4 separate regions of the Homo sapiens genome follow, and all the other regions are linked to region 4. Evidence: fine-mapped expression QTL. A gene starts in region 4. Each other region holds a variant in brackets. All regions are shown on one strand. Distances are between the middles of the regions.

Region 1 (5,154 bases), 290 kb before region 4:
GAAAGAAGAGAAAGAACAAACTGTCATCTTCCTACTGCTCATTCCCACTACTTAGTGAAGGGAGTTGGCAGAATCACTCTCAGTAGTAGAAATTAGCCCCGGGACTGGGTATTGGCCTTGAGAAGCCAATGGACACCAATGGACCGTGACCTCAGACCAGCACCACGTGACACTAAGGACGGCTCTTCAGTGGCATCATCACCCAACAGTATCTGTCCATGCCTAGCTAGATGCCGAGAAGATTTTCCCACCCAAGAGAAATAGAAAGTGATAAATTCCACAGGCTCCACAGGAAAAAAGATGTCTTCCTGTCAAGGAGATGAGGTGTGAGACAACGTTTACTGATAACTTCAGGGGTTCCAGATAGGCCCTCTAGTTTGCTTGTGCCTATAAGCTGAGTTACTTGGGAGGCTGAGGCAGGGGGCTCAATTTTTTTTTTAATTAGCTGGGTGTGGTGGCATCCACCTGTAGTCCCCACTACTCAGAGGCTGAAGCAGGAGAATCACTTGAACCCAGGAGTTTGAAGCTGTAGCGAGCAATGACTGTGTGCCACTGCATTGCAGCTTCCAGAGAGACAGTCTCTTAAATTTTTTTTTTTTTTTTTTTTTTAGATGGAGGGGATGGGAGTGGAGAGAGAGAAGAGGAAATAAGCAGGATGCTGATGGCTCATTCTGGGGCATGCGAATGAGTGCCTGTGGGACTTTCAGTGGAGAAGGACTAGAGGACTGAGGGCTGGGCTGCATATAGAAATTTACAAGTCACAAAACACAGGGCCTTTGAGAGAAGATAAGTGACTTGAGGAGAATGAACAGGGAGACAAAGGAAATGATTTAAGGATGAGTCTCTGAGAATGATCAAAATTTAGGGGAGAGGGAGCCTGGGAAAAAGCCCAAGAGGAGCTTCCACAGAAGGAGGAGGAAAACAAGTTAAGTATGGGAGTCTCACAGATTTCTAGTGGGGAGAGTGAGGAGGAGGAGGAAACTGTCAACCACTGCAATGCTGTAAAGAGGTTAGTGTGATGAGGGTAGATGCATGGCCACTGGATTTGGCAACTAGCAAGTCCTTGCAATGGCATGCTTTAGGATGGGGCTAAAGGTGAACAAGGGATAAGACAGGCAGTATGGGCAGATGATTCCTTCAAAAACCTGTTTCTAAAGGGGAGAAGAGGGTGGTAGCTAGAAGACTGAAGGGATCCAGGGAGTGAAAAGGTTTTGTTCCTAATGTTTTTGTTTTAAATGAGAAGTTCAAGCAAGTGTCTATAAGGCAGAGAGCGTGCAGAGGCCCATCTGAAGACACAGGACACAGGAGGAGGACTCCTTAAAGACTCAGGAAGGGATGGGATTCAAACACTCAGGTGAAGGGTATGAGCTTATGGAGGAGGAAAGCCAGTGCTGTTGAGATAGAAGAAAGGTGGATGCTGGCAAATGTGAAAGCAAGTAGGTAGCACGAAAAGTTGAGGGGACCTCGTACCCAATGTCCTCTGTTTTCATGATGAACCTAACCTGGAAGAGGGAGAAGTGAGGGAGGTGACACACGGGATCGGGCTCCAGGGATGTGGTACATGAGGACTAGAAGAGTTGAAACTGATATTTAAAAATATTTAATTATCCTTATCTCATCACTATACATTATTTGTACTGAAACATCATTATGTACCCCATAAATATGTACAATTAAATGTCCATTTAAGAAAATAAAAAATTAAACAAATTTTAAAGAGATATTTTAAAGAAATAATGACTAAGATATTGTCTCTGCCTTTAAGGAGCTTACATTCTGCAGGAAAGAGCAAATGAAATAATTCCTACAGTACAGATAAAATAAGTGCTTTAGAAAGTAGGTCCAATACCTGCAATACAAAGACAGCAAACTCAACTTTGGAGCTTTTACTTTGGAGGAGGTTGGAGAGGTAACTATTTATTTGCCCTGGGCAGAGTATCAGGTTTCATCACAGTTCTAATAGATTAAGAACAAGATGACAGGATGATTTTGGCGGTGGGGGTGGGGAGGGGGAAGCAAATCAAAAGGCCCTGAAAAAAACAAAAACACGAGGAAAAAAAAACAAAAAACAACTTTTCTTTTAGATGCAGAAGATATGTTGGGAGAGGGCTTCGGAGATAAATCTTTGTTTTATAAGATTCTTCCATACCGTACAGATAGGAGGTAAGTGATGAAATAAGCGAAGAATTGAAAAGGATGACCAAAAATAGCCCACCAGTGTATATCAGTACAACCTGAATGAAGGCCAGTTTGACAACATCTAGCAAATGATTTTTAAAATAACATACCCATCAAAAGATTGGAAGACAACCTAAATGCCCATTAGCAGCAGACTAGTTAACTCAGTGTGGTATATCCATATAATGGCTGTTAAAAAGGATGAAGTATCTCTATACATACTGATATGGAAATATCTCCAAATATATTGTTACACTGGAAAGATGCAGAATTACATGTACAGTCTGCTACAGTATGTGGGGAAAATCACATGTGTGTATATTAACGTAAAGAGTAGTTTTGGAAGGACACTTAAGAAACTAGATACAATGACTGCCTCTGGGAAGGAAAACTTATTTTCACTGTATTTCATTTTGTAACTTTTCAAATTTTATACTATACGCATGTATTACCTATTGAAAAGCAAAGTATTTTTAAAATAGTCTTTCATTTTGAAAATACAATTCACTGTAGCTTGAGAGTTAAAAAAAAAAAATTAAACAGCTATTTTTTCAGTTAAACAGCTGACTTTCTCAATGATGCGAAACATTTAATAAGCATTCCTAAAGAGCATGGCATACTAATTTTACATTTTGGGATCACTTTGATCTTTAAGAACTTAAAGAAATATTTTCCTAAAGTACATCACATCATGAGCATATCAGTAAGTCAGAAGATGGTTTAATTTTAAAATTTAGCAAACTAAGTTTTGTGTGTGGGTGTAATTCAAACAAAGCCCTTTTGTTGCATTCCTAACCACAAACAAGGAAGCTTAACTGCGTGGGATGGGTAGGCTGATGAAACTGGAATTCGCAAGTGACATGATGTCCTTCTTAGATGATTTTGCCCTAACACAGAGAGATTCAGGAATGCAAA[A/C]CAAGTTTCTGAGAAATCTACAGTAAGTTCAGTATTTTAAGCAGTATTCACTAATCACCTATGTGCCTTCAACCTTGTTAAATTATAGTTGGAGCTCTGCAAGGTCTTGGAAGGCCTAAGAGTTTATAATCTTGCTGGGGAGGCTCAGATGCAAGAAAAACTATTAAACAAAGTCAGAGCATCATTCATTCACTCAAAAAATATTTGAGTGCCTACTGAGTGCCAACCACCATTCTAGGCACTTGACGAGTATTTTCTCACTTAGCCTTTATATTACCTTTATGATACAGGACTATTAATGAGGAAAGTGAGGTAAATACAGAATAAACAATGTGTTCACTGTCACAAATGTAGTGAGCAGCACAGCTACTAAACCCAGGCATCTCTCTCCAGAGCCTGTGCTTTTAATTTGCAAGTAAGGAGCACTGTGCAATGAGGTGGGAGAGGCAGAGGAGGGAGACAGGGAGTAAGCAAGTAAGCAAATCAAACAAGATATTCTCATATAGTTATAAGGGTTCTGAAGGAAATAAAACTGGGTAATGTGAGAGTGTGATGGAAAGTCCCCATTTAAGTCAGAGACAGCCTCTATGAGCAAGTGACATTCAAACCAAGACCTAAATGATAAGAAATAATTAACCATGCAAAGAGCTAGGAGAAGAATATATAGCTCCAAAGGAAAAATGAATGCAAAATCCTTGAGAGGAGGAATGAGTTTGGGTTTTTAAAGAATACAAGAGAGTATAGCCAGAGCCTTGTGAGTGAAGAGCAGATGGTATAAAATTCAGATCATATTGGGCCACCGAGGCTGTAGAGGCATTTTGGATACAAAAAGCTCACATGAATGGGGTCTGAAGTCAGCCAGAAGGCTTAGTAGTACAGTGGGACTTCAGATGACCTTGAAAGATTGGTATGCTTTGGATAAATGGAGAAAGTGACAACTATTAGTTGGAAAATAAAAAATTCTAAGAACTAATTTTTTTGTTGATGCTATTCTTTAACGAACTGTTATGACACATGTTGCATGGGCTCTTCTCGGTGCAGTGTTATAAAACTCTGCCAGTTATCAACTGGACCCGAGTCAAGTGTATAAGAATACAAAATATACTCAGACTACCAGCACCACAAAATAAAAGTTACCATATTTCTTAAACCCCTTACTAACCCATCAACCTCTCCATCCATTATTGTTTAGTGCGCAATACTATGAGACAAAGTCCATCATAAGAAAGTTCTAATCAAACACCCCCATATCCCCCAAAAAAGAAACAAAATACATCAATATATTCTGCAAATTAGGTCTATTAAATTAAAATTTCAAATATTTGAATTGTAGATCTTCATCATATTCTTATTGAACACTGTGCTTAGCTGGGGATAAAGCACTGGTTTTTTTTTTAACTTTAATTTTAGGGGTACACATGCAGGTTTGTTATATAGGTAAGCTTGTGTCATGGACTGGGGGTGTTATATAGATTATTCCATCACCCAGGCACTAAGCCTAGTACCCAATAGTTATGTTTTCTGATCTTCTCTCTCCTCCTACCCTTCACCCTCAAGTAGGCCCCAGTGTGTGTTGTTCCCTTCCATATGTCCATGTGTTCTCATCATTTAGCTCCCACTTATGAGAACATGCAGAATTTGGTCTTCTGTTCCTGCGTTAGTTTGCTAAGGATAATGGCCTCCAGCTCCATCCATGTTCCTGCAAAAGACATTATCTCATTCTTTTTTACGGCTGCATAGTATTCCATGGTGTATAGGTAGCACATTTTCTTTATCCAATCTGTCATTGATGGCCCTTTAGGATGATTCCATGTCTTTGCTATTGTGAATAGTAAAGCATTGTTTTTAAAGATTCTTTTTACATGCCACTGCTGTTTTTCCCCATTTTTCCTCATGTATTTTTAAAATTATGAAATCGTTTTTTGAGGCAGGGTCTCACTCTGTCACCCAAGCTGGAGTGCAGTGGCATGATCATAGCGTACTGCAGCCTTGAACTCCTGGGCTCAAACAATCCTCCCATCACAGCCTCCTAAGTAGCTAGGACTATAGCACGTACCCCTA
Region 2 (5,154 bases), 190 kb before region 4:
AACGAAAAGTTAAGGAGAGTTCTCTATGTTTAAAGCAAACTGAGTGACAACTAGACTCAATTGAGCCTTCAACAAATATGTGCTGTATAGCTACTGTATGCCAGGCACTGTGCTAGGCTCTAAGTATAATAGTGAGCGAGATGGAAACAGTCCTTGCTCACAAGTTGCTTAGAGTCTAAAAAGGAAGAGAGAAGTTTAAATACAATATGGTTAGTTATAGGGGTAGACAAAGACATGATGTCATGAGAATATTTGCCAGCCTTTAGAGAGGGGAGGATAAGCCTTCTAGTTAGAGAAGTAACACATAGGAAGAGGCAGAAAGTATGGTATGCTCAGGAACTGGACATGGTTCTCGGCGATTGGAGTGTGAAGTAGGAAAGGAAGGATGCTGTGGTCAGGTATGAGGCTGGAGAGAAACACTTCCTATATTGTGTGTAAATCTTGACTTTATCTTGATGAGATGTGAGCAATGAGGGCTTTAGGTAATGCAAGAAAAGACAGACAGAGGGAGAGGCTGGGTGGGAGGAGGGACTAAAGAGGGAGAAGGAGAGGGAGGGAAGTGAGGGGTTGAGGGAGAGGGAGGGAGACAGAAGATTGGTTATCACTGTTGAAAATGAAAAGATTTGTTTCATATCCCCAAAAGAAGAATGTTCTGTTGTATTTTATTTTGGCATAGCTGTATAAAACTAAGAAGCTAGCTATTTGGGGTTAGGTAAAAAATTTGAAAACAGAATATTTAAGGCCTATAGTTTCTCACCAGGATATTTTAAACTATGTTCAATAGCACCTATTAGAATTTACTTTGGGGCTGATGAAGCTGAAACTGTAACCATACTGCTATTGTAGTTTGGAAATGATTTTGGTTCCTGGCAAAGCAAAGATTTGGCTGATCATCTCATTTAACATGGGAACTACAGCCCAAAAGTACTGCATAAACTAGGAGTCTGGCATTAAAATATCTGCGCTCTCCTTATACAATTCAAGGGTACTTGAATTACCAAGCAAGGCTTACACAGGAACCTTTTCAATTCCAATAATAATATAATATCATTGTACTGAGGTTAATGAAGAAACAATAGGTCATAAAGGCAAAAATTATGAAGCATATGCTATTATTCTTTTTAACTCAGAAAAATACTAAAATCCATTGTAGACCACATCAAACAATTTTGTAAACATAGCAAGTCTTACCTGGCTTTAATTCAATCTTTCCAATGTTCAATATTATTAAATCCTAAAAGAATTTGAGGCAGCTCTGGAATATGCAACATATACACTCATATTAGTACAGATGTTAACACATTGATTCATTTCAGACACCTCTTTATAATTTCTGTTTGGCTTCTGAGGCACAGTCCCACTTTAAAAACACCACGATAACCACTCTTTTTAAAAACGTAACAGAGAGTCGCCAGATACCAGTATTCACGTGTAGTGGTAACTGCTGGGAATTCTCATGCCCCTCACCCACCCTTGGAAACCCGAATAACAAAACAGGACTCAAGGCCTTCTGAAATTACTCAGGCTGGAGCAAATGTTGCTCATGCTTCATCTCCCAGGAAACCTAAAAACTTCCCAAGAATGAAGTCACCACGGGAGCAAAGCAGGCAGCTGAGTGAACTCTGGAGCTCTAATGTACTGTCTTTTGTAGACAACAGCTCTTCGGTGTTAAAGCCACAAGACCAAGAGCAGACACAGCATCCAGAAGAAAACCTCTATTGGCAAGCACAAGACAGTGATCACAGATGTGGCCCCAGACGACGGAAGGACAGGAGTGCAGCACGCTGAAATGTCGGAATACTACACGCCTGCAATTGCCTTTCCCTCTGGCATTTAATGAGAAATAAAAAGCACATGTGAAGGTTTTATGATCATTTTAATTATGTGTTAAAAACACTATAGGTAACTCTTTTGGAATGTCCTTTTCTCTCCAACATAAGCGGATATTTGAAAAATATTTGGTTAGAAAAATTAAAATAACCTAAATTTAAAATCCATGTACAAGAATGACAAATACAAACATGATAGTGGTTAAAAGCAAAACAAAACTAAAATAGAATTTCTCTCAGAAATAAACCATCTCCACTGTATGCTTTAGAAAGAAAATGTAGAATCCTCAGTTATGGCGTATGAGTATGCAAGGAATATCTTTCTCCCCTT[C/T]CCCCGCCCAGATCTCTCATTTCAAATCCCAGGCGTGTTCATTCAATTCCACACTCTCAGCTCACACTGCTGAAAAATGCTTGGGTGTTTTGTGCAAATCCAAAGCTAAATAGGAAAGAGACAGAAAAAGATTTAGAGGCATAATAATCTTGAAAGAAAATAGTTCTGTATCATGTTTGTCAGTTAATGGGGAAAAAAAGTGCTTTAGGAAGTTTTAATTGAATAAGAACCTTTAAAATGTCATCTTTCTTCAAAGAAATATTTGTGCATATTGGATAAGAAAAATGTAGAATGTTCATGCTAACTCCTTGAAAAGAGCCAGATCATTTGGCCTATGTAGTAAATGGAGGATTCCGAGTGGTAGTCCAGTGCTTTCCTTGGAACCTCTGGCAATTAACTTTCTAGCTAGGAGTCAAGTTTTATAAACTGTTAAGTGACCAGGCAGACAGACTGGCTCTACAAGGTAATGTTTCCAATTTGACTCATGCTTATGGTCTTTGACTTTAAAAGTCATTTGTAGTCCAAGTGACACCAGACATTCTTAAAACTGGTATACTAAGGGATCAGCTTAGACTTTTGGATTTTGGTTGACTTTTTGCATTGTTGCCCACAGACTTGGTGCAGCAGGAGATACCTGTTATAGGGAAGAAGGAAGAAAGGAAGAGAAAAGAAAAGGAAAAGACCAAAATGCATCTCCTGGAAGCAAAATATCCCAAACTTGAAAGAGGAGTCACAACTTAAATCAAAAGCATGAAATGTGTTATAAGGAGGTCTTTTCCCTAAAACAAATATATTACTAAAACAGTAAACAGTGGTATGCTGTAAATCATAATCTTTTGCCTAATGCATTCCTAAAGTTTCATCCTAAGAGCAAACACCAGTGAGAAATGGACACTCAGGAACCCAGATAACTCAAAAGTTGGAAGGAAGCTGTCTGCAGTCATTTTCATTAAAGAGATAAGATCACCTGGCCCTCTTCAGTAGCTTTTACACTTAATGTCCCTCCCTCCCGACTCTCAAAGCTATAAACCTGAGAAGAAAAAACCCAGCTTTGCTTTTAGCCACAACTCTAGCAATTTAAGCAAAGACAGGGTAGGGAACAATAAAAATATTCATGGCCATCATGAAGATTTACCATAACACCCATTATACTTTCTTGGTGGAATTACTTCCCCGTGGCCTCCTTTCTTCAACCAAGGAAAAAATATGCCTTCCAAATTCCATTTTTTGTTCCTTCTTGAGCCAAAAATATAATCTATATTTGCTTAAAAGAGGGTTCTGGAAAGTGAAAGAGCCTTTATCTGCTTGTGAGAAATGGAATTAACTGAAAATCAAATGGAAACTTTGGTAGGAATACTATGGTGAATGGTTAAATATTTACAACATAAGAACCAGTTCGTTTGAAAACAAATGTACAAGTGCCTGGCTTCCTTCCCTGCCTCAGGAGTCAAGAATGTTCCGTTGCTGAGAAGGGCCATTTTATTGACATTCAAGTAAAAGATTTGGTTCCAGGAAAAGAAGGTAAGAGTGAATACAAGTGCTATGGTTCTACAAACTAGTATTGTACCAGATGAGTCCATGCTGATGAGGCTGTCCTTTAAAGATAAATTCACAAAGAAAAAGTGCCTAGGGGAAAATGAGTAATTCTGACATCAAGCATAGGAGTGCCCCTAGCACGACTAGGTCTAGTCGTCCAATTTCCCAAAACTAAATGGGATATAAAGAATGGAAGAACATTCAGCCGTGCGCAATCCCAGCACTTTGGGAGGCCGAGGTGGGTGGATCGCCTGAGGTAAGGAGTTCAAGACCAGCCTGCCCAGCATGGTGAAACCCCGACTCTACTAAAAATATAAAAATTAGCCAGGCGTGGTAGCAGGTGCCTGTAATCCCAGATACTTGGGAAGCTGAGGCAGGAGAATTGCTTGAACCCGGGATGTGGAGGTTGCAGTGAGCCGGAGATCGTGTCATTGCACTCCAGCCTGGGTAACAGAGTGAGACTCTGTCTCAAAAAAAAAAAAAAAAAGAACATTCAAACTGTCTCAGACCTAAAGAAAACGCTGGAACTATGTTATTTAGGCAACTGGGACCTGTATCTCATGCTGAATATGCAGTTCTGAAACAAGCAGCATAAACACTTACTCCATATTAGTTCAGATGTTAACACACTGATTCATTTCACACACTTCTTTGTAATTTCTGTTTTGTTTCTGAGGCACAACCCAACTTTGAAAACACCAGGACAACTACTCTTTATAAAAATGTGACAGAGGGTCTGTTTGTTCCCTAAGGTGGAAGGAAAAAGAAAGAATGATGGTGAGAAAATCAAGCTTCACCCAAACCACTGCCCTGCACATACAAATAAATAACCTCCAAGGCTCAATAGCCCAAGTTTGCTTTGGTGCAAAGGTGGTGGTTTGTGAACTAGAAAGGTGTGTAAAATAATTCCTATTAGCAATCCTTCTTTGTACTGTTTGTGTTTTCTCTTAATCAGCGTTAGTCCAGCCTCTCTGAAGGGACATGTTGGGCCTGCTGGGCTAATGTACCAGGTGACTCTGCAGCTCCTGATAGGGTTTCTGGAACAGTCTGATGATCACCTTAGCTTGTCATTCGGTAACTTCCTGGGACAGGTGTTAGCCCAGTGTGAGGCTCTCTGCAGTGCTGAGACTCTGCCCTTGACTGACAGGAAGTTTTTTGTTTTTTTTTTTAATACTTGGCAATAAAAGGCTCTTGGAGGTGGAAATGAAAAATCAATGGAGAAAACCACAGAAATCCCACTGAAACCAGCTTTACTTTTCTAGAGTCTTTCTGTTATAAGGGGCTGCTTCAGGTTTCCACATTTCCCTGGAGGGCAGGATGCTTAAGGGTTTTAATCCTAGTCCCTTCAGATCACATAATGGTGCTGATAAGGTGCTGTTCTGCTGACCCAGGGAAAAGTGCCCCTTCATCCTTTCATCTGCTTCTGGGTAGAAGTGACTGTTGAATGATTTAAAAGAG
Region 3 (5,154 bases), 210 kb before region 4:
GTTACATGCATAGAATGTGTAATGATTAAGTTGGAGTATTTACGGTATCTATCACCTGGAGTATTCATCATTTCTACGTGTTGGGAGTTTTTCAAGTCTCTTTTCTAGCTACTGTGAAATACACAATACATTGTTTTGAACTATAGTCACCCCACTCTGCTGTCGAACATTAGAGCGTATTCCTTTAACTGTAAGTTTGTACCCATTAACCAACATCTCTTCATCACCACCACTCACCCACTTACCCTTCCCAGCCTTTAATATCTAACACTCGACTCTCTACCTCCCTGGGATCAACTTTTTTAGCCCCCACATATGAGTGAAAACATACGATGATATTTGTCTTTCTCTACCTGGCTTATTTCACTTAACGTTAAGAACCTCTAGTTCCACCCATGTTGCTGCAAATGACATGATTTCATTCTTTTTTATGGCCAAATAGTATTCCACTATGTGTATATACATTTTCTTTATCCTTTTGCCCGCTGATGAACACTTAGGATTCCATATCTTGCTATTGTGAATAGCGCTCAAAATGTGAGTGCAGGTATCCCTTTGATATACTGATTTCTTTTCCTTTGGATAGATACCCAGTAGTGGGATTGCTGGCTCAAAGGGTAGTTCTATTTTCAGTTTTTCGAGAAATTGCCATACTATTTTCCACAGTGGCTGGACTAATTTACGCTCCCACCAACAGTGTATAAGAGTTGCCTTTTCTCTGCATACTTACCAACATGTGTTATTTTTTGTGCTTTTCATAATTGCCATTCCATGACTGGTTGATTTCTTTACAAACTTTCCAGAATAAAGTTCCTTAATTTCCCCTGCTTTTAAAGAATTGGATGAAATCTTAAGCTTAGCACATCTAATAGAAGTAGACCATCAAGAGCAAGGTAAGTGGCTGTCCTTATCTAGTCTTCCCTGAAGTACCGTGTTATGTGATAAATGTCACAGTCTGAGAGCAACATGGACAATTTAGGGCATATCAAAGAAGAGGGACCTTAACAGTCCAAAATGCTAGATCATGACATGGGAATAATAGGTGAAGATTGAATTAAAGACCTTAACCTGGAAAAGAAACAATTTGGCAAGGAAATGGTGACTATTCTTAAAGATTGGAAGGTGGTAAAGTATAAAAACTATTCGATGTTTTCTGTTTGGTCTAAGAAGGATGAAAGAATTGAAGTTTTGGGACAGCAGATATGGAGTTACCATAAAGAAGAACACTGTTGCAATTCAACAGGTTCTTTTTTTTAATTTTATATATATATATATATATATATTTATTTATTATACTTTAAGTTCTAGGGTACATGTGCACAACATGCAGGTTTGTTACATATGTATACATGTGCCATGTTGGTGTGCTGCACCCGTTAACTCATCGTTTACATTAGGTATATCTCCTAATGCTATCCCTTCCCCCTCCCTCAACGGGTTCTGAAAATGAAATAGTCTGCTTTCCTACTTAGTGAGTTCACTTTCCTTGACTGTGTTCAGATGGAAGCTAGTTGCCCACTTTGGGGGACTGTTGGAAAATGTATCAGAGAAGAAATGGAACTTCTTAAATCTTCGGTCCCCTTCTCACCCTGAAGTTCTATGAAGATGCCTATTTTGGGGAGTATGAGGCAGGCTAAGTAACCCTTATCTGAAATTCTTGGAAGAAGAAGTGTTTTGGATTTGGGATTTTTCCAGATTTTGGACTATTTGCATGTATATAATGAGATATCTTGAGAATGGGATCAAATATGAATGGTTTTAAGAATCTAGGTCTGTGGGGTTTTTCTTATATGTCTTTGTATTGGCTTTCCTAGCACACAGCTAAGGAAACAATTACTTTATTTCATTAAAAGAGGCAGTATATTAAAGCAGTCTAGTTTATTTAGACAAAAACCCACACAAAGCAAACAAAAAACCAAACTCCTTTTAAGGATGTTCTCCCAGAATTATCTATCTATGCTCATCTACTTAAATAGGCTCTTTTGAAATTTCTGCATGTGTTGTGCTGGGTGGGGTAGATACAACCTTTCTGTGGCCATCGTGCTGCCCAGGTGGGACGTGGAGACCACCACTTCACCCAAGGTGGTCGACAGCTCCACTCATGGCGTCCATCAGCAGTAGAGACACTAAATGAGGTTCGAGTCCTAGGAGGCATCCTCTGGGGATGTTGAGGGTCAAACTCGAGGCTAACAGTGACCGGTGGGGAGAGGCTGGAGAGAGAAACAGCCGAAATGAAGCTGCTCCTTCAGACAACTCCCTGCTTTCTGCTGCTAGTTGAGCCACAGAGATAAGTGGTAGGGCTTATCTTTATTGACTTTTACACCATGGTTGACTGCATAATGCTATGGAAGCCACTTCATATTAATTAGTTTAGGTAAAAGACTTGTAAAAGAGATAAAGAGACAGTGTGGTGTAAATATACAGGCTTTGGAGTCAAAGAGCCAGGGTTCAAGTTCTGACTTTCTAACTGTATGACCTTGAGCAAGTAAATTACTTAATCTCTCTAGGCCTCAGTCTCCTTATCTGTACAATGGAGCTAGGAATAGTTGCTGGCTCATAAGTGCTACATAAGTACTACATAAGTACTAGCTTTTCTTGTTTTCACAGAAACAGAAAACTGAACCCCATTTGAACTTGCTTCTCCTTAAGTCCTGTCCAAGACACAAAAGGAACAAAAATGGCATTGAGGTAAGAATCTAGGTCACATCAGAT[A/C]TGTTGCTCTGGTAATTGCAAAAGAACGTGAATCCAGATGAAATGATGCTGAAAGTGAAAGTGAATCCTATATAACTTTTAAAGGAAATAATATAAAAGTGTATATCCTTGCTAATTACCCTGATTTGATTATTACACAATGTATACATGTATCAAATCATCACATTGTATCCCTTAAATATATGTAATTATTATGTTTCAATTAAAAATAAAAGTTAAAAAAAAAAAACCCCGTATGTCCTGACATGGAAAGCTGTCCTATTTATTAAATTAAAAAGCTTGTTACGGTAGGCCGAGGTGGGCGGATCACCTGAGGTCAGGAGTTCGAGAACAGCCTGACCAACATAGAGAAACCCTATCTCTACTAAAAATACAAAAAATTAGCCAGACATGGTGGCGCATGCCTGTTATCCCAGCTACTCGGGAGGCTGAGGCAGGAGAATTGCTTGAATCCGGGAGAGAGGTTGTGGTAAGCTGAGATGATGCCATTGCACTCCAGCCTGGGCAACAAGAGCAAAAACTCTGCCAAAAAAAAAAAAAAGAAAAAGAAAAAGCATGTTACAAAACAGTATGATCACCTTTTGGAAAAAAGGATTACTATTGACATAAATGATGGTAATACAGCAGCCTATATATATAAAAGAAAAGAGGTGGGCTGGGTGTGGTGGCTCATGCCTATAATCCCAGCACTTTGGGAGGCCGAGGAGGGCAGATCACCTGAGGTCAGGAGTTTGAGACCAGCCTGACCAACATGGTGAAACCCTGTCTCTACTAAAAATACAAAATTAGCCAGGCGTGGTGGCACATGCCTGTAATACCAGCTACTTTGGAGGCCGAGGCAGGAGAATGGCTTGAACCCAGGAAATCGAGGTTGCAGTGAGCTGAGAACGTGCCATTACGCTCCAGCCTGGGCAACAAGAGCAAAACTCCGTCTCAGATTAAAAAAAAGAAAAGAGCTGGAGGAATTTCTACCCAACAGTAAATAATGATTTGGGGGTAGGAGGATAATTAAGATTTCATGGGATATTCACTGTATATCTGTTATTTCTGTAAGATTTGAATTTTTATAACAAATACTAATTTTTAAATGAGAAAAATCAGTGTTTAAAAGGCAAAATAAGAAACATTATCCTATTACAGATTTTAAATTTTACTATATACTGATAACCTTAAACTGTGTGTGAGTAGGCAATTAACGATGATAGGAAAATGGATGCAGGAAATGCTTCTCTGGTCTCCTTTCAAAATGATAACAAACATCACTGTTTAGAACCCCTTTCATCATACCTTAAATCTTCCCATGAACCTGCTGAAGCAGGCATTTGTGGTTAATATTTGGGCCTTGGCAGACTTACATCCTGGTCTGAATCCTGTCTCTCTGTCTTATAACTGTATGACCTTGGGCAAGTGCTTTAATTGCTCTGTGCCTCAGTTTATCTGTCAAGTGGGGCCAATAATAATACTACAAAGGGGTGTTCTGAGGATGAATTGAGCTACTGTTTGTAAAATGCCTAGAACAGTGACTGGCATTTAACAAACACCTAATAAAGAGTTTAGCCATCATTCTTTTTTTTTTTTTTTTTTTGAGACAGCATCTCAAAAAATGGCACGATGGAGTACAATGGTGCAATTTCGGCTCACCACAAGCTCCATCTCCCAGGTTCAAGCAATTCTCCTGCCTCAGCTACTGTAATCCCGAGTAGCTGGGATTAAAGGCATGCACCACTACGGCCGGCTACTTTTGTATTTCTAATAGAGATGGGGGTTTCTTCATGTTGGTCAGGCTGGTCTTGAACTCCCTACCTCAGGTGATCTGCCCGCCTCGGCCTCCCAAAGTGCTGGGATTACAGGCATGAGCCATTGCTCCTGGCCCATTCTTTTAACCTCATTTAGAGAGAAAACTCTGGATACAAATGATACATTAATCTCAAATCTCCCCTCCCCCACAAATACTCCAGAATCCTAACATTTATTCCCACTACCCTCCTCCCCCACCCAGATCAGCATTTTGTCACACACTCATGGGTATTGGCTTCCATTCCTTCATAGAGCCCTTGTTCCTGGCACCTCATGCTCTAACCTATTACCTAGATTCAGTTCTTTTGAATTTTCCTTTTATCTCTTTACAGTTCGGCTTAAATGGCTTCAGTGGTTTCCCATTGCCAAAAGTTTAAATTTCAAACAACTTTGTTTGTCCCTTCACACATTGGCCTCATCCTGCCACTATGGTCCATTCACTATTCCCCAAGAACCACAAGAGCATTCCTAATCCTGAGCCTTTGCCTCCAGTGACTGGCCTCCTCCCAACCTGCTTAATCCCATCATCTCAAAATCCCAGTGGCGTCATACTGCATATTCAAGAAAGCTGTCAACCATTCAAATCCAATCACGTCTATTTTGAATTCCTTGAACACCTCAAATCCTGGCCCTTGTTCTAATTTG
Region 4 (5,154 bases):
ATTAGTGGGAGGATTAGACCTTTCTGTCAGCAAACTGTCAGATACTGTAGTGTATAGATACAGAATATTTTATCATTAAGGGACAGGCAAATTGTGTACAACTAGACTTTTTAAATGCCGAGACAATATTTATGTTCATTGCAGAATTATCTGTTATTCAGCAACCATGCCCTCTTTCTTCCTGCAAAAAGAACCTCAAATCATTCAAACAGTGGGCAATGATTCCTTGACTTCAGGAAGAGTAGGTCCTTATTGTAGAAACCTGTGAAAGAAATCCTAATCAGTCTGTATTAATCACTGGCATTTCTTACCAGTGATTGGCCTAAAGACAGGCACAGGGTACAGTTCTGGTTAATGAGATGAAAGCAAAGGTCTAATGAGAAACAAAAAGCCAAAAACCTGTCTGGAATGAAGATGCAATCAATGCTGGAGTTGTGGGATCCATCATGCAACCATGAAGACAAAGCCAACATCATAAGAATGGCAGAGTGGAGAGATAAGTGGGGTCCTTGATCACATTATTGAGCTGCTGCTCCCCTTGCCTGGAAAATCTACCTCCAAACTTCTTGTAATATGAGAAAAACAAACCCCAATTTACTGAGAGCCACTATAAACTCGGTTTTGAATTTTTTTCACAGGGGGAAGCCTTCCTAACTGACACACACATATGCACATCCTTTTGTTTTACTTAAGAAAGTTAAGGAAAAGTCATACAACTTATAATGGTGTCCCGTGCACTCGTGGCTTATCACTGTGAAACCCAGTTCTCCCTGGCTCATCCACAGTAAGAATTACTTCAGTAATTTGAAAAATAACCTTTTGGAATTATTTCTGGGGATATGAAAAGTAACCTGAACCAATAACAGAGCTCAAATGCAATCCATATTACCTTCTTCCCACCCTCAAATTAAAAATTTTTTCTCCCTTAATTACAAATGTTTCTTGATGAATGCACATGTGTGAAAAGCCATTATAATCTATTGTATCAGACTATTAAATACTCTAAAAATTTAAAAGCAATATTATAACAAGTAATGTTAATCTGTAGTTTAAGAGAAAAATAGAAATATTAACCCCAGTACATAAATATTTCATTGGTATGACTACCCACACCAAAAGATAAATGAAGAATTGAGGTATGCTGCAGGATGACTAAGGTTTAAAAAGGGATTCAAATATACAGATAAATAGGAGAGGCAGAAATGTTTTGATCTTGAGTTATGCTGAAAGCTGATTTAATTCTCCTTTCTGAGTGTGGGGAAAAAAAGCAACACATGGTATTTATGCAATCTATTATCCAGAATTATAAGCAAACTTAAAATATTTTTAGATGCTATTTTCAGTTGAAGAGAGAAAAAGCAGATATTTTTGAATGCACAAATATATACCATGCCACCATCTTAACCATGTTATTAATCTTTAATCTGATTTATAACTGAAAAGCTCATGTGGTAACTGATTGTATGCGATTTCATTCACAAAAAGAGAAGATTATCCATCAAACAGGCATATTTTTCTTCGGATTTCATAGAATAAATGAGCTAGACACATTTTTCTTTCAAATCCCAGGCTATCCAAAATATTTCTAGATAATCAGAAAGGCATGAAACAGCAAATTAAGTTATATTAAGGCAGTTCTCATTATTTTGCATTTTTGACAAATCTGACAAGTTGAAAAAAACAATTTGAATAAAGGCAATATTGGAAAAAGAAACATACCTTAGAGATGATTAATGGTTCTCCGTGCTCCAGGCCACCCTTTAGAGTAAAACCCCAGGGAGCTCCTCCCTCCAGGAATGCCTCCAGATAAATGTACCTTCCCTTGGTGGCCGTGTTAGAGTTTAATGTGGCACTAGGCTTGTGGAAGTCTTCAGTGGTCCTCATCATGCCAAACACATGATCCCTCAAGTTAAATTTAAAATGCCTGAAGCAAACTCAGGCAAGCAGTGCTTCTACAGCACAAGTTGTCCCATCCTTCAGGACACACAATGGCCAAAAGAGAGGTTTGGAGAAGCAAATTCTTCCATACGTAAAATGTTCTTCCAAGCTGAACTCCAAGATGCTGAACCAGAAGGAATTTTCACTTCAACATTTCTGAATGTAAATCCTCCTCCAGGAATTCTGGGTTCTCACTGAAGCCCCCAAGTGGTATACATCTCTACTCCGTTCGTCAAAACTTCCTTCAGTGGCGCTCTGAAGATTGCTTTTCTGAGCTTTTATTTCACACATACACACACTAAAACCATTTCTGCCTATTTTACAGAGAAAATTAAAAGCATCTTACAATATAGTAAGAAAATCACAAATACTCAAAGGAATACCTCATTTTTGATTGATTATCAACCCTTTCTTCCTCTCGGAGTGAAATTTACCATTACAATAGCCTCCTCCCTCCCCAGAAGTAGCTTAAAAAGAAAGAAAGCACTTACTATGCTTCGGCTCACTTCAGAATTTTCTAACTTGTCCCGAAGAGACAGAGAAGCTGTGCTAAAACTTTTTACTTCTTTTTTTCAACAATCAGTTCATAGTTTGTTTCTTAGGAGAGAAAAAAACTTTTGCAGGATGTAGAGAAAATGAAAAAGCACGGTAAATTAATCCTCAATGGAAAAAATATGAAGGAGGCAGCTCAGTTCTTTTCTTTGGTATTTTCAGTGATGATCAGCCACTGCTGCGGCCGCCACAGCCACTTGCCTCCTCTTGAGAGAAAGAGTAAGGAAGTTAGAGGAACATGGATTAAGGCAAAGTGAGGCATTGCAACCTTTCTGCACAGTAAGCACTGCCATGCAGAATTCAGCTCACCACAAAGACCTGACAATTCAAACAGTCTTACAGTTAATAACACGTAGGAAGTTAAAAATACTATACAGATGGCTAATTGCCAAGGGATAGAAAATAGTTCCTAGAATAGCCCCGCCTCGTACCAATTAAAGGAGAATTTCAGGGAGTGAGACATAGGCATTTGTGTTTTTAAAAACCCTCCAGGCAATTCTGCTATGCAGCCAAGTTTGAGAAGCAATGCCTAAGTGATTTGGGTAAACGTTTAAGTACATGTCAAGGTGGTGGCACAAGGGCTTTTTTTTTTTCGTTAGAAGAAAATACTACCAGTGTAATATATGAAATGGGACTTTCCAATCAAAGTTCTGCTTGTTTGACTCAATAAAAACAGGAGGTGGGTTTTTTTTTCTAGGTTTTCATTGTTATCTACTCCAAGATTGTTATCCACTCTTTAAATGAAAAGAAATCTACAATGCCTTGTGGGTAAGTACTAGGTACTCGGGAAAGAATGTTGTTCTGATTTCATGTTACCAGTGTCATTTTGTAATAATGTTATATACAAATTTAACATTCATGCTTTGTATTAAAAATTTGAACAGTAGAAGATAACCATATCTAACCCAGAAGCCTCAGCTATTTAGTTATTGGAACAGATTAGAATTACTTCCAGGTAATATATGTACTAAAACTTTTTTCTGTTTAAAAGTATGGGATAATGAGAATTAAGTTGAAAACTGAAGTTAAAAACTACTGTGGGGCTTGATAACAATTATTTTGGTGTTTGTACTTATAATTAATGAAAGGCTGATATGGAAAGGCAGGTATATGATATCAAACTACACGATATTTAATTTACAACACTGGACAGGTATTGTTTGATTTTCAATGGTAACTTCACTTGAAGGGCTCAAAGACAAAAAAAAAAAAAAAAAAGTAAAACCTTATGTAATGGTAGTATGTGAATGGAAACATAAGGAAACCTAAGGTGTACCAAATGAAAGTATGTGGTAAAAATTGGCTGATTCTTAAGGGTAATTTACGCAATTTCTATTGTGGTTTTCTTTTACAGCTTAATTTGTAAGTTAGAATAAATGGAGAAACATTAGCTTTTCTTTCATTTCAAAGAACATATGTATTTTAAATAAAAGTCCTAGGTAAATGAACAGCTTTCTTTCTGAAAAAATTAATTTATGAGGCTCTTATTATGTTACTCCTAATACATTTTGTAAAAACTGGGATTTTACAGAATCCACATTTAATATTAAAAGTAACATAGCTATACAAAATTTCAGTTAGGAGGCATAAGCTCAAGAGATCTATTGTACAGCATGATGACCATAGTTATAACAATGTATTGTATATTTGGAAATTGCTAAGATTAGATTTTAAGTGCTCTCACCACAAAAAAAATTAGTATGTGAGGTAATAGGTTAATTCCTTGATTTAGCCATTTTACAATGCATACTTATATCAAAACATCATGTGGTACACCATAAGTATATATAATTTTTAGTTGTCAATTTAAAAAATAATAAACAAAAAAAGTAATGAAGCTAAAGGCAAAGGAAATAAGGAAAAGATAATATGAACCCAGTGCTTGCAGACTGATGAAATCTCCATTTTAGATTATCACCAAAAATATTGAAGAAACAAACATAGAACCAAAATTGATATGTAATCTGAAAAAAAAATGTAAAACTTCATTTTGTGGACCTTCACTATAGCAGTTGATAGACCAGGTTTGGAAGAACTTTTTTCCTCCATCTTCTGTTGATCAGATTCAAAGAATGTTAAAGCTGCAAGAGACAATCCTCCCACACCCTTGATTTTAGAGGTAAGGACACAGAGGCCACCAGAAGGTTAAATGATCTGACCAGAGTAATCCTGCAAGCAACACAGGCAGGCATGAAATTTAAATCTTCAGACGTTTAGGAATGAAATCCTAGCTTAAGTCAGGTGTTCTGCATAGTTTACGGTGAAAAGACAACTTTCTTTTGGCATAGCACTGCTAATTCGTAAGAAGAACTTCTGTTAGGATATGTGATTTGGATGCAAACTCTTAATTACAGAATGCAATCAGACTCCTCCCCAAGAAGAGAAAGGCAACTCTATTGTCTCAAGGTGCTGACAGTGGAAAGAAAGGTTGGGATTCTAACTGAGAACAGCATAGGACTCAGGCTTTCTAATAGAGGACTTCTTTTATGCCCCATTCATCATCTTTCTAGGGAACCACTTCTTCCTCGATCCTGTGGTGCTGGTGGGCTGCCCCTGTCCCCGGCTCCAGGGTGGACGTAATGACCCAGGAATCAACCAACCCCTGGCTCAAATGATTGATATGTGGATGGGCATGAGACTTAAGTGTGACCAATGTTATAACTA

Which allele goes with the higher level. Alleles are on the strand shown, and positions count from the first base shown. SD is a standard deviation of normalised expression in the study named. Not every link is listed here.
For the expression in sun-exposed skin of the gene that starts at base 2,711 in region 4, T is the high allele of the variant in region 2 and C is the other (small effect, 0.23 SD a copy in GTEx).

Evidence for each region. PIP is the estimated chance that this variant, and not a neighbour inherited with it, causes the effect. A credible set is the group of variants that fine-mapping cannot tell apart.
Region 1: its variant is the best candidate, but not a certain one, in a credible set for the expression of SHROOM3 in tibial nerve (GTEx, PIP 0.73).
Region 2: its variant is the best candidate, but not a certain one, in a credible set for the expression of SHROOM3 in sun-exposed skin (GTEx, PIP 0.54).
Region 3: its variant is the best candidate, but not a certain one, in a credible set for the expression of SHROOM3 in cerebellum (GTEx, PIP 0.61).

The regions. Positions count from the first base shown.
Region 1 is chr4:76,721,997-76,727,150 of GRCh38, reverse strand. All of the region lies in intron 3 of SHROOM3 (shroom family member 3), which reads right to left. The region is part of intron 2 of SHROOM3-AS1 (SHROOM3 antisense RNA 1); the gene reads left to right. Among named protein-coding and RNA genes, the nearest start is that of SHROOM3-AS1, 78 kb to the left of the region's middle. The variant A/C (reference allele first, on the strand shown) is at 3,094.
Region 2 is chr4:76,620,860-76,626,013 of GRCh38, reverse strand. The region is part of intron 2 of SHROOM3 (shroom family member 3); the gene reads right to left. The region is part of intron 3 of LOC105377290 (a long non-coding RNA gene); the gene reads left to right. Among named protein-coding and RNA genes, the nearest start is that of MIR548AH, 48 kb to the right of the region's middle. The variant C/T (reference allele first, on the strand shown) is at 2,161.
Region 3 is chr4:76,642,355-76,647,508 of GRCh38, reverse strand. All of the region lies in intron 2 of SHROOM3 (shroom family member 3), which reads right to left. It overlaps LOC105377290 (a long non-coding RNA gene), which reads left to right and starts at 634. Exons shown (of 4, transcript XR_001741404.2): 1 at 634-2,688. The variant A/C (reference allele first, on the strand shown) is at 2,713.
Region 4 is chr4:76,432,786-76,437,939 of GRCh38, reverse strand. SHROOM3 (shroom family member 3) reads right to left here and starts at 2,711. Exons shown (of 11, transcript NM_020859.4): 1 at 1,720-2,711. The coding sequence starts at 1,887.